Homo sapiens: one gene and its partner. The protein of the gene in region 1 purifies or fractionates together with the protein of each later gene. This does not show direct contact. Each region holds a gene or a part of one and is shown in the gene's direction. Other genes may lie near its edges.

The links.
Region 2: the proteins of FAT1 (region 1) and POMGNT2 purify together in Homo sapiens (affinity purification with mass spectrometry; 2 studies listed by BioGRID and IntAct, with this or other methods). This does not show direct contact.

The regions. Positions count from the first base shown.
Region 1 is NC_000004.12:186,713,819-186,720,857, reverse strand, and holds part of FAT1 (protocadherin Fat 1 isoform 1 precursor), read left to right. Parts: intron 1-7,039.
Region 2 is NC_000003.12:43,078,695-43,082,079, reverse strand, and holds the end of POMGNT2 (protein O-linked-mannose beta-1,4-N-acetylglucosaminyltransferase 2), read left to right. Parts: intron 1-543; 5' UTR 544-648; coding exon 649-2,391; 3' UTR 2,392-2,846; downstream 2,847-3,385. UniProt on the Homo sapiens protein: O-linked mannose beta-1,4-N-acetylglucosaminyltransferase that transfers UDP-N-acetyl-D-glucosamine to the 4-position of the mannose to generate N-acetyl-D-glucosamine-beta-1,4-O-D-mannosylprotein.

The DNA.
Region 1 (7,039 bases):
TCTATATCCCCTCCCCAACACAGTCCTGCCTCACATTTCTCACTCTTAACGCTTTATTCATCTGTCCATTTACCAATCCAACAATAGTGGACCTCCTCTGTGTCAAACATTGGGCCAGACACAACATCTAGTGCTGAACAAATCGTGTTTCCTGCCCTCAAGCAGCTCGTAGTCTGATAAGGGAGAGGACAAGTACACAGTCTCTTATAGACCAGTGTGATAAGAGATCCATTCAGGTCAAGGTGGTCCATAGCAGCACCTCAGTGAGCTGGGGGATCTGGGGCAGGTGGATTTAGGATAATGTGAGTTCTGAGGGAAGTGTGAATCAGAGGGGAACAATTCAAGCAGAGGAAATGATGTGTGCAAAGCAAGTTATAGAAAGCATAGTGTGGCTTGTGGTGTGATGAGTGGAGAGAAATTCTGAAGACCTCACCGTACCATGTTATCTTAGGAAAAGGATTGGCTTCTTTTTTTTGTCTAGGTAGAACATAGAGAATCTTGACTATGACTTAAATAATCTTATTAAAAAAGGGAGGATTGTTTTTATGAGGCAGAGGTTAAGGAGAGAGAAAAAGAAAGAAACGTTGAAGAGAAAGGTGAAAACAAATAAGCTGTATGTGAGGAGTGGAGGGCAGGAAACAAAGAAAATAGTAATGTTTGCATTATCTTTCGGAAGGGAAGAGGTCAAGATGTTACATTACTTTAGAGCCTTCACCACTAGGTGGTGTTATTGGCTCAAGACAGCTTGGTTACTGAACTTGTTGCAAGTCTGGGAAGTATGCCTTTTTGTTTTGAAATAAGAAGTAGTGTTGGGAAATTAGGAAATTAGTTAGAGGTTAGATTATCAAAGGTCTTTAATGCAAGGTTAAGAATCATATACTTAGCAGGCTAAGGGGAAATACTGAATATTTTCAAGCTAAAGAATAATATCACAAAGAAGTTTGAATAGGTTGACTGGGATTGGGGGCAGAAAGCAGGAATACCAAAAGACTGTAGGAATACTCTGCATGAACAAAATACCCATTCTAACTAGGTGGTAGCAGCAGAAATGCAAAGGGAACCATTTTGAGAAATTGAGAAAGAAATGTCAAGTTTGGATAACTTTTGAGAAATGAAGGTTTGAGAGCCAGGAGGCTGTAAAGATTTTAGTCCATCCTTCAATTTCTCGAATACATAGAGTCGAAAGGATTAAGCAAGTTCCTTGAATTCACACAGTTGATTAGTGACAAAGCTGGAGCTAGGTTCCACATTTGATGTTCTCCCAACCCCTTCCTTTTTGTTTGATTTGTTAGTTTGCAAACTTGGTTGATTTGGGAAGTGGTGAGATTGGAAAATAACTGGAAGAGCTGTTATTTTGCAATGGCGAAAGGGTGAAAAGTCTATATAGTTGTCCCTTGGTCTCTAAGGGAGGTTTGGGATTTTATACCCAAATCTGAGAATGCTCAAGTCCCTGATATAAAATGGGGTACTATTTATATTTTTACTGTTTTATTGTTTATTTTAAAGACGTTCTCAACCTGAGGTTGGTTGGATCCATGGATGCAGAACTCTTATATAGTGAAGGCCAATCGTATAACTTAGGTTTGATGGTATTTTAGGAGGAATGTTACGAGGTGTTTGAGAGAGGTTAGAGCTGAAATTGCAGATTTGGTGCACTGATCCTTCATGATTTGAGGCAGAGTAGATGAGATCTTTAAGGGTGGTAATAAATGCATGTGGAGGAAGAGTTGGAAGACAAGTTTGTAATGCCAGAGTTGTAGGTGAGTCAGTGTAGAGTATAAAAGAGTATGGAAGAGAATCAGGAGAATGTTGTCATTCATTTTTCATACCTGTGGATTGCCTCTTTGTTTTGGGGGACTCTGTGACCGAATGAAGGATCAGGAGTGTTGGGGAGGGGAGTGAGTGGTGTCAAAGGTGTCATGAAATCAAGGAGGATGAGCACTGAGAAAAGGTCATTGGTTTGACATTAGCTTGTGATGCGGGAACGGCTGTTCTGCCAGGGTGGACCTGCAGGATCTCTGTGGAGCAGCGTTTGGCGGAGAGGGAGTTCTAAGGAAGCCAGGGCGGTGCTGTGAAACTCCTTTTCTTGCGATCTTTGCCAGTATAAAAAAAGAGAAGAATAAGAGTGTTTGTTTGAAAGAAGCAAAGGTTTGAATGAAGTTTATTTTATTTTATTTTATTTTATTTTTTTGAGACGGAGTCTGGCTCTGTCGCCCAGGCTGGAGTGCAGTGGCGCAATCTCGGCTCACTGCAAGCTCCGCCTCCCGGGTTCAAGCGATTCTCCTGCTTCAGCCTCCTGAGTAGCTGGGACTACAGGTGCATGCCACCACGCCCGGCTAATTTTTGTATTTTTAGTAGAGACGGGGTTTCACCATGTTGGCCAGGATGGTCTCAATCTCTTGACCTCATGATCTGCCCACCTCAGCCTCCCAAAGTACTGGGATTACAGGCATGAGCCACCGTGTCTGGCCAAGCTTATTTTTTAAGTAGGAGAAGAACCTGTGTGTGTGTATGGATTCTGCACAAGGTGTCAGGAGTGGGAGGAGCTGTAGAAGAGGCAGGATTTTGTGGTATCAGAGTATCTTTATTTGCAGCTAGGGTGGGTGGCATCTCTTCTGAGGTGTAAGAAGAGAGAACAGGTGAAGAGAACATTTTAAGAGGAGGAGGGAAGATGGACTTTTCTCCCTGAAGATTTCCGTTTTCTTGCTGTACATGGAACATTCACTTTCCTGGTCTGTCATTTAGTGAAGGGTTGACCGAATCTAATTATACAGGGAGCCCAATTCAACGTATAAAATAAAGTCTTACTTACCAACTTGGGAGTGGAAGAAGTGGCCATTGTTGATTATTGGCTACTCTGCCAAGATGTCATTTAAATTACTTCTGTTTGTGGAGAAAAATACATTAGATGAGATGATCTCCATTCACAAGAGGTCAACAGTCCATTGAGCTTCTCCTTGGGCAAAGTTTGTCCTGGAATGTGGATGAGGAGAAAGTGGTTGGAGGATAAGGAATATATAGAGAGGGGAAAGAAGAGAATAGCACAGGAATGCCTCACCCTGCCAGAAATAGACACACAGCCGCTGCCTACCTGTCCTGTCTTGTCGTTCCCAGGAGCACAGAACAACTAGAACCCGTCATCTTCGTAATGCCAACAGACATGTTTTATAGGTTCATGTAGATAACTAGGTTTTATATAGAGGCTGTTTGAAAAATAGGACATCTGTTTATCTTTCTTAAGGGCAGGAACACTTCAGGAATCTATTTTGGATTGATTAAATCATGTACATGGTGAAGTTTTCTGAAAAAGCCAGATTGTAGTTCCACACTGTCATTGTCAGTAAAGACCATTCTCAGGGTTAAATTGGAACCGGTGGTTGATCATGTGAAGGCAATATTTAAAGTATGTCTTGCTAGAGTTACCAGATTATTGCAGCCCCAGTCAAAGATAACAACATATAAATGGAGTTAGCAGAAGTGATTAAATGACATATACCAAGCCTAAGGCTGCTGCTCAATTTCTAGGGTCACAGCTTCCTCCGTTCATGCTGAAAATCATATGAAGATGGGTTGAAAAGAATTAGTGTACACCCAGAAAATAAACAGGATCTACTCATTAGTATTTCAGTGTAAGGATGAAAGCTTTTAAAAGTACCGACATGGCTATGATAATTGAACTAGAAAAATAGAGAGTTTTTTTTTTCCTGTTGTAAATTTTATTTGGAATGTCTGAAATTTTAGAAATCATTCAACATTCTTTTTAATATACAGTATTTTTAAAAAGCCATTTACGCTGGGTGCGGTGGCTCATGCCTGTAATCCCAGCACTTTGGGAGGCTGAGGTGGGTGGATGACTTGCAGCCAGGAATTCGAGATTAGCCTGGCCGTCTCTACTAAAATACAAAAGTTAGCTGGTCATGGTGGTGCATGCCTGTATTCCTAGCTACTCAGGAGGCTGAGGCATGAGAATCGCTTGAACCCAGAAGGCAGAGGTTGCAGTGAGCCACGATTGCACCGCTGTGCTCCAGTCTAGGTGACAGAACAAGACTGTCTCCAAAACAAACAAACAAACAAAAAAACTCGTTTACAATTCATAATCTCTTGACAACTTCATGATCCTGCTTTGAAAATGTGTTTGCCGGCCAGGCCCAGTGGCTCACAACTGTAATCCCAACATTTTGGGAGGTCCAGGCAGGTCGATCAGTTGAGCTCAGGAGTTCGAGACCAGCCTGGGCAACATGGTGAAACCCCATCTCTACAAAAATACAAAAAATTAGCTGGGCATGGTGGTACGCCCAGGTACCCCGGAGGCGGAGGCGGGAGGATCACTTGAGCCTGGAAGGTTGGTGCTGCAGTGAGCTATGATGGTGCCACTGCTCTCCAGCCTGGGAGATAGAGCAAGACCCTGTCTCGGGGGAAGAAAGATGCTTGCAATTTAGAGATCTCTTAAAAATACTTTAAAAATGTGACACTGAACTGAACTCGAAATTCCAAATTTTAATCATGAGTTAAATTCTACTGACGCTTTCACTATGTTGATAGAAAATGAGAGTGGAGAAGAGCACAGTGAGGGAGAACACAGAGTTCTCAACTTAATAATTTTGTGTTTTTATCATAACATGTGAAATGAAAAGTTTAATAATGTCCTGTTCCATAAAGGCTAGAATGACTACTTGTGCTTGTAAGAATTGTGACCGCTCAGTAATAAATATGCGGCGTTTAACAGAATTGGTGCATTGTGTGATGCTGTGTCTCACCTAATGTCCTGTCTCTGTGGCGTGTGAAACCCTTCGAAGACTTGAGCTTGAGGTCATCTAAACACTTGAATATATGCAGTTAGGTTTTCAGCACAGGGGCTGTGTTCTGTTTTGTGAAGAATGTGCAGTCACAGTAATTGATGGAAGCATTTTACATGAAGGTCTCCCTAATGAAGAAATATGAAGATATTAATATCTGATTTTTACTGCAAAAGTTATTTTTCTGCCGTATTTATAGATTTTCAGAGATCTATGCTAAAGATATTTAAGCTTTAGACTGGGAGCCCTTCTCCTTCAAGGCTAGACTAAGTAAACACTCTTTGTTTTGGCTTCGGAAAATGCATTTTAGAAATCCCAAATTGCAGTGAGTTTAAGTAGTGTGATCACCTTCTAAATATCAAAGTATAGCCCTTGGCTCAGATGGTCTTTGGAGTTTAATTTCCATAAGCAAAGGAGTCTAGGCGATAAGGTCCTTTTTAGATGAAATGGTGTTGGAGTCTCTCCCCGCTTCAGCTTTACTGTTTGTTTTGCATGAGAGCCACAGCCATTGTTTTGATCAGGGTGGTTTTTATAGTGAAACCTGAATTCGTGGTTCTTGGTTACATTACTGCACGGTTAACAATGTCTTCCAAAAAGTGTATTTTTTCATTTAATAATTTATTCTACTCACAGTAGCATTCTGTTAGCCAAGTTTGCAGAGTACATTCAGGTTTTTCAAAGATTTCAGTTAGGAATGTGGTCCACAAGTCCGTCCCAGCTGTATTGTGTCCCGTGAGAACTGCTGAGTAGGATGTGGAAGGTAATTGCATGTTTGGGAATCCAGTTGGGGATGAGTGGGTGGTGGTGGGGGCTGTGGTGGGACTGAGCACCTGGGACAGCATGGGGAGAGAACAGCCAAAGCAGTCTGACGTGTTGGCCATGGTCTGTGTGTCTTAGGGGATGGAACAGTGCCAGAGCCTTCTGGTGGGGGGATGGAGGGGGAAGCAGCGTGGCGCATCAGCAAGTACTTTTTTTTTTGTTTTTGAGACAGAGTCTTGCTCTGTCACCTAGGCTGGAGTGCAGTGGTGCGATCTCAGCTCAGTGCAACCTCCGTCTCCCTTGTTCACGCGATTCTCCTGCCTCTGCCTCCCAAGTAGCTGGGACTACAGGCGCACACCACCGCACCCAGCTACTTTTTGTATTTTTAGTAGAGACAGGGTTTCACCATGTTGGCCAGGATGGTCTCGGTCTCTTGACCTCGTGATCCGCCTGCCTCGGCCTCCCGAAGTGCTGGGATTACAGGCGTGAGCCACCGCGCCCAGCTGGATTAGTGAGTATTTATATTATATAGAACTCCAAGTTCTAATGTTAGGCTTCAGCTGTAGAAAAATCTTTATTTACTCACTGTTTCTTATCACACCACTATGCTGTGGTTCCCTTTCCTCCCTCAGTGGCCGACATCTCCCCTGTCAGGGCCTCCCGTTTGGACCCTTCAAATCTTGGGGTTCTGCTCTTGGATTTTTTTTTTCTTCTGCCTGCTCTCTTCCTTGGTGATCTCATTCAGTTCTGTGGTTTTAAATACCGTCTTTCATATTTAGACAACTCTCAAATTTCTATCTGCCGGCTGGAGTCTCCCACATATCTGCTGCCCACTCACAATCTTTACTTGGATAGCCCGTAGCTGTTCCCATCTTACCCTGTCCAAAACTGACCTCCCGATCTGCTCCCTGAGGCTGCTTCTCCTCCTGTCTCCCTCTCGGTTCCTGGCCCCCTTGTTCTCTACGCTGAGCAGTCTTTGGCATCTTCTCTGGTACTGTTCTCTCCTCCTTTCCCTCCCTCTCCCCACTCCAGCATCAGGCAACCTTGAAATAGATTCACAATCTGCCCCCCACCCCCGTTGTGCCCCAGCCCACACGCGCTCCACCTGTGTTGTGGCTGCAGCCTCTGACTGCTCTGGTCGCCCTCCAGCTTCTGCCCTGGCTGCCCACAGGTTTTTCCATTTTACTGAGACCGTGGCACTCCTCGGTTCAGAATCCGCTGGGGGACTTCTCATTTGATTCATACTAAACTCTAAAGTCCTAAAAATTGTCCTTTATCCATGAGTCCAGACGGATCTTGAGAAAAAAAAAGATTCAGGTTGGATGCAGTGGCTCACACCTGTAATCCTAGCAGTTCGGGAGGCCGAGTTGGGCAGATCGCTTGAGCCTGGGTGTTTGAGACCAGCCTGGGCAACGTGGTGAAACCCCGTCTCTATAAAAAATACAAACATGAGCCAGGCGTGCTGGTGGTTCCTGAGTATGTAA
Region 2 (3,385 bases), on another chromosome or scaffold:
GTTTAATCAGCTGTTGCTCAGCCCTGATGTCTATGTGTTGGCTGATCTTGGCTGCGTTTGGCTGATCGCACTGCTGCTCTTGGCTGGGCCCACTCAGTCATGAGGGATCAGCTGAACTAGAACAGGGCATGGCCGGAGCAGTTCTGCTTCATGCGTATCTCGCTCCTCTTGGGGCCAGCAAGTTAGCCTGAATACATTCTTCTTATGGCAGTGTCATAAAGAGGGCAAGGCCAGCCCAAACACTTTCCAAACCTTTGATTATGTTCTGTCTGCTGACATCTCACTGGCCAAAGCAAGTTAAATGGCTAAGCCCAAAGTCGGGTGTGGGGATGCACTTTCCAACATGGAGGCGATGGGGAGGGAGAGAATATTTTAAACAATGGTCTAATCTACCACGCCTACCAATGTGCACAATGGCTGCAAGGATCCAGTGCTGTAGCGGGCACACAGAGCCTAGCTACCGTGCCTGGCACATAGCAGGAGCTTGTAATGATGCCAGGAAGACTGCCAATTCCTTTTTCTTTTCCTTCTCTCCTCCTGCAGGCTTTCACCAGTTCTCAGGATGCCCATAGGGATGGGTGAAGCCTGCCTGGCCTGTGGTGCTTCCCAGTGGCCGTCATCTCATTAGGGCCCCACAGTGGCATTAGGATGCACCTCTCGGCGGTGTTCAACGCCCTCCTGGTGTCGGTGCTGGCAGCGGTCCTGTGGAAGCATGTGCGGCTGCGTGAGCATGCAGCCACACTGGAGGAGGAGCTGGCCCTCAGCCGACAGGCCACAGAGCCAGCCCCAGCACTGAGGATCGACTACCCGAAGGCACTGCAGATCCTGATGGAGGGCGGCACACACATGGTGTGCACGGGCCGCACGCACACAGACCGCATCTGCCGCTTCAAGTGGCTCTGCTACTCCAACGAGGCTGAGGAGTTCATCTTCTTCCATGGCAACACCTCTGTCATGCTGCCCAACCTGGGCTCCCGGCGCTTCCAGCCAGCCCTGCTCGACCTATCCACCGTGGAGGACCACAACACTCAGTACTTCAACTTCGTGGAGCTGCCTGCTGCTGCCCTGCGCTTCATGCCCAAGCCGGTGTTCGTGCCAGACGTGGCCCTCATCGCCAACCGCTTCAACCCCGACAACCTCATGCACGTCTTTCATGACGACCTGCTGCCACTCTTCTACACCCTGCGGCAGTTTCCCGGCCTGGCCCACGAGGCACGGCTCTTCTTCATGGAGGGCTGGGGCGAGGGTGCACACTTCGACCTCTACAAGCTGCTCAGCCCCAAGCAGCCTCTCCTGCGGGCACAGCTGAAGACCCTGGGCCGGCTGCTGTGCTTCTCCCATGCTTTTGTGGGCCTCTCCAAGATCACTACCTGGTACCAGTATGGCTTTGTGCAGCCCCAGGGCCCGAAGGCCAACATCCTCGTCTCAGGCAATGAGATCCGGCAGTTTGCACGGTTCATGACAGAAAAGCTGAACGTGAGCCACACAGGAGTCCCCCTAGGCGAGGAGTACATTCTGGTCTTTAGCCGAACCCAGAACAGACTCATTCTGAATGAGGCAGAGCTGCTGCTGGCACTGGCCCAGGAGTTCCAGATGAAGACAGTGACAGTGTCCCTGGAGGACCACACCTTTGCTGATGTCGTGCGGCTGGTCAGCAATGCCTCCATGCTGGTCAGCATGCATGGGGCCCAGCTGGTCACCACCCTCTTCCTGCCCCGTGGGGCAACTGTGGTAGAGCTCTTCCCATATGCTGTCAATCCCGACCACTACACTCCCTATAAGACGCTGGCCATGCTGCCTGGCATGGACCTCCAGTATGTAGCCTGGCGGAACATGATGCCAGAGAACACAGTCACACACCCTGAGCGGCCCTGGGATCAGGGGGGCATCACCCATCTGGACCGGGCTGAGCAAGCCCGTATCCTGCAAAGCCGTGAGGTCCCACGGCATCTCTGTTGCCGGAACCCCGAGTGGCTCTTCCGAATCTACCAGGACACCAAGGTGGACATCCCGTCCCTCATTCAAACCATACGGCGCGTGGTGAAGGGCCGGCCAGGACCACGGAAGCAGAAGTGGACAGTCGGCCTATATCCAGGCAAGGTGCGGGAGGCACGGTGCCAGGCGTCAGTGCATGGCGCCTCCGAGGCCCGCCTCACTGTCTCCTGGCAGATCCCATGGAACCTTAAATACCTGAAGGTGAGGGAGGTGAAGTACGAGGTGTGGCTGCAGGAGCAGGGGGAGAACACCTACGTGCCTTACATCCTGGCTCTGCAGAACCACACCTTCACTGAGAACATCAAGCCCTTCACCACCTACCTGGTGTGGGTCCGCTGCATCTTCAACAAGATCCTCCTGGGACCCTTTGCAGATGTGCTGGTGTGCAACACGTAGCGAGCAGGCCACAGCCTGGCCTCGGGAAGGTGGCTCCTGCAGTTCAGCGTCCCTGGGCCCATTAATCCCACTGTGGAGACTTCTGGGAACTATTTATTGAGCAGGCCTGTGCCTCCACATCATCTTGTTGTCTCTGGGGTGTGGTGTCACAGCACTCCTCTTTGCCCTAGAGATAAGGGACCTGACTTCCCCTTCTCCCATCCTGAACATTTGTACCCCTGGAGAAGTTCCTTAGCAGGGAGGAGGAAGAGGAGAGGAGGAAGCAAAGAATCACAAGGAACCTCTGGCTAGGTGATCCTGATGTTTCCTACTGAGTTTTTCTGGTATCCAGATTTCTGGAAACCGAGTAATCATGTACTGTTTGATTGGGTGGTTCATCTGCTTCCATCCCAGTGAAATTTACCTGTAGCCCAGTGAAGGGTGTGTTTGGAACATTCATTAAATGATTCTAAGCATCTTGGTCAAGTCTTCTTATTGGATGGGAGGAAGGGGAGCTGGTCGTCAAAACCCAGGTGCCCTTTAATCTTGATTGTTAGCTAGGGAGACGTGGCAATGGGAAAGCGCCCAGGATGGCAAAGTGAGCAAGCTGGTTGGATTTCATCTTGACTAGCTGGACTAATATCACAGTTCCACCTACATGGGATAAAAGCCTAGAAGTAGGTAGGAGAGGGCTGAGGGGAGGAAGAGCTGTATCCACCATGGGTTTTTTTTTGGGCTCAACTAGACATTAAGACTCGCAAGACCTGGACAGATCATACCTGGCATCAGAGTTTCTTAGAAGGATGGAGAGAGATGCTCAGCATGCCAGCAGGGCCATGTCAGCAGTTCCCTTCCACAGGAGCAGTCCTTACATCAGTACTCCTGAGGGCCACCTTGATTCAGAAGCCCATGCCCCATAGGAGTCAATGTGTTTTCAACAACCCACAATCAGAGTTCCCAGGGTCCCTCAAGGGACATGCCCAGTTATGAGTTTCTGCACTTAGGGAAGCCTAAG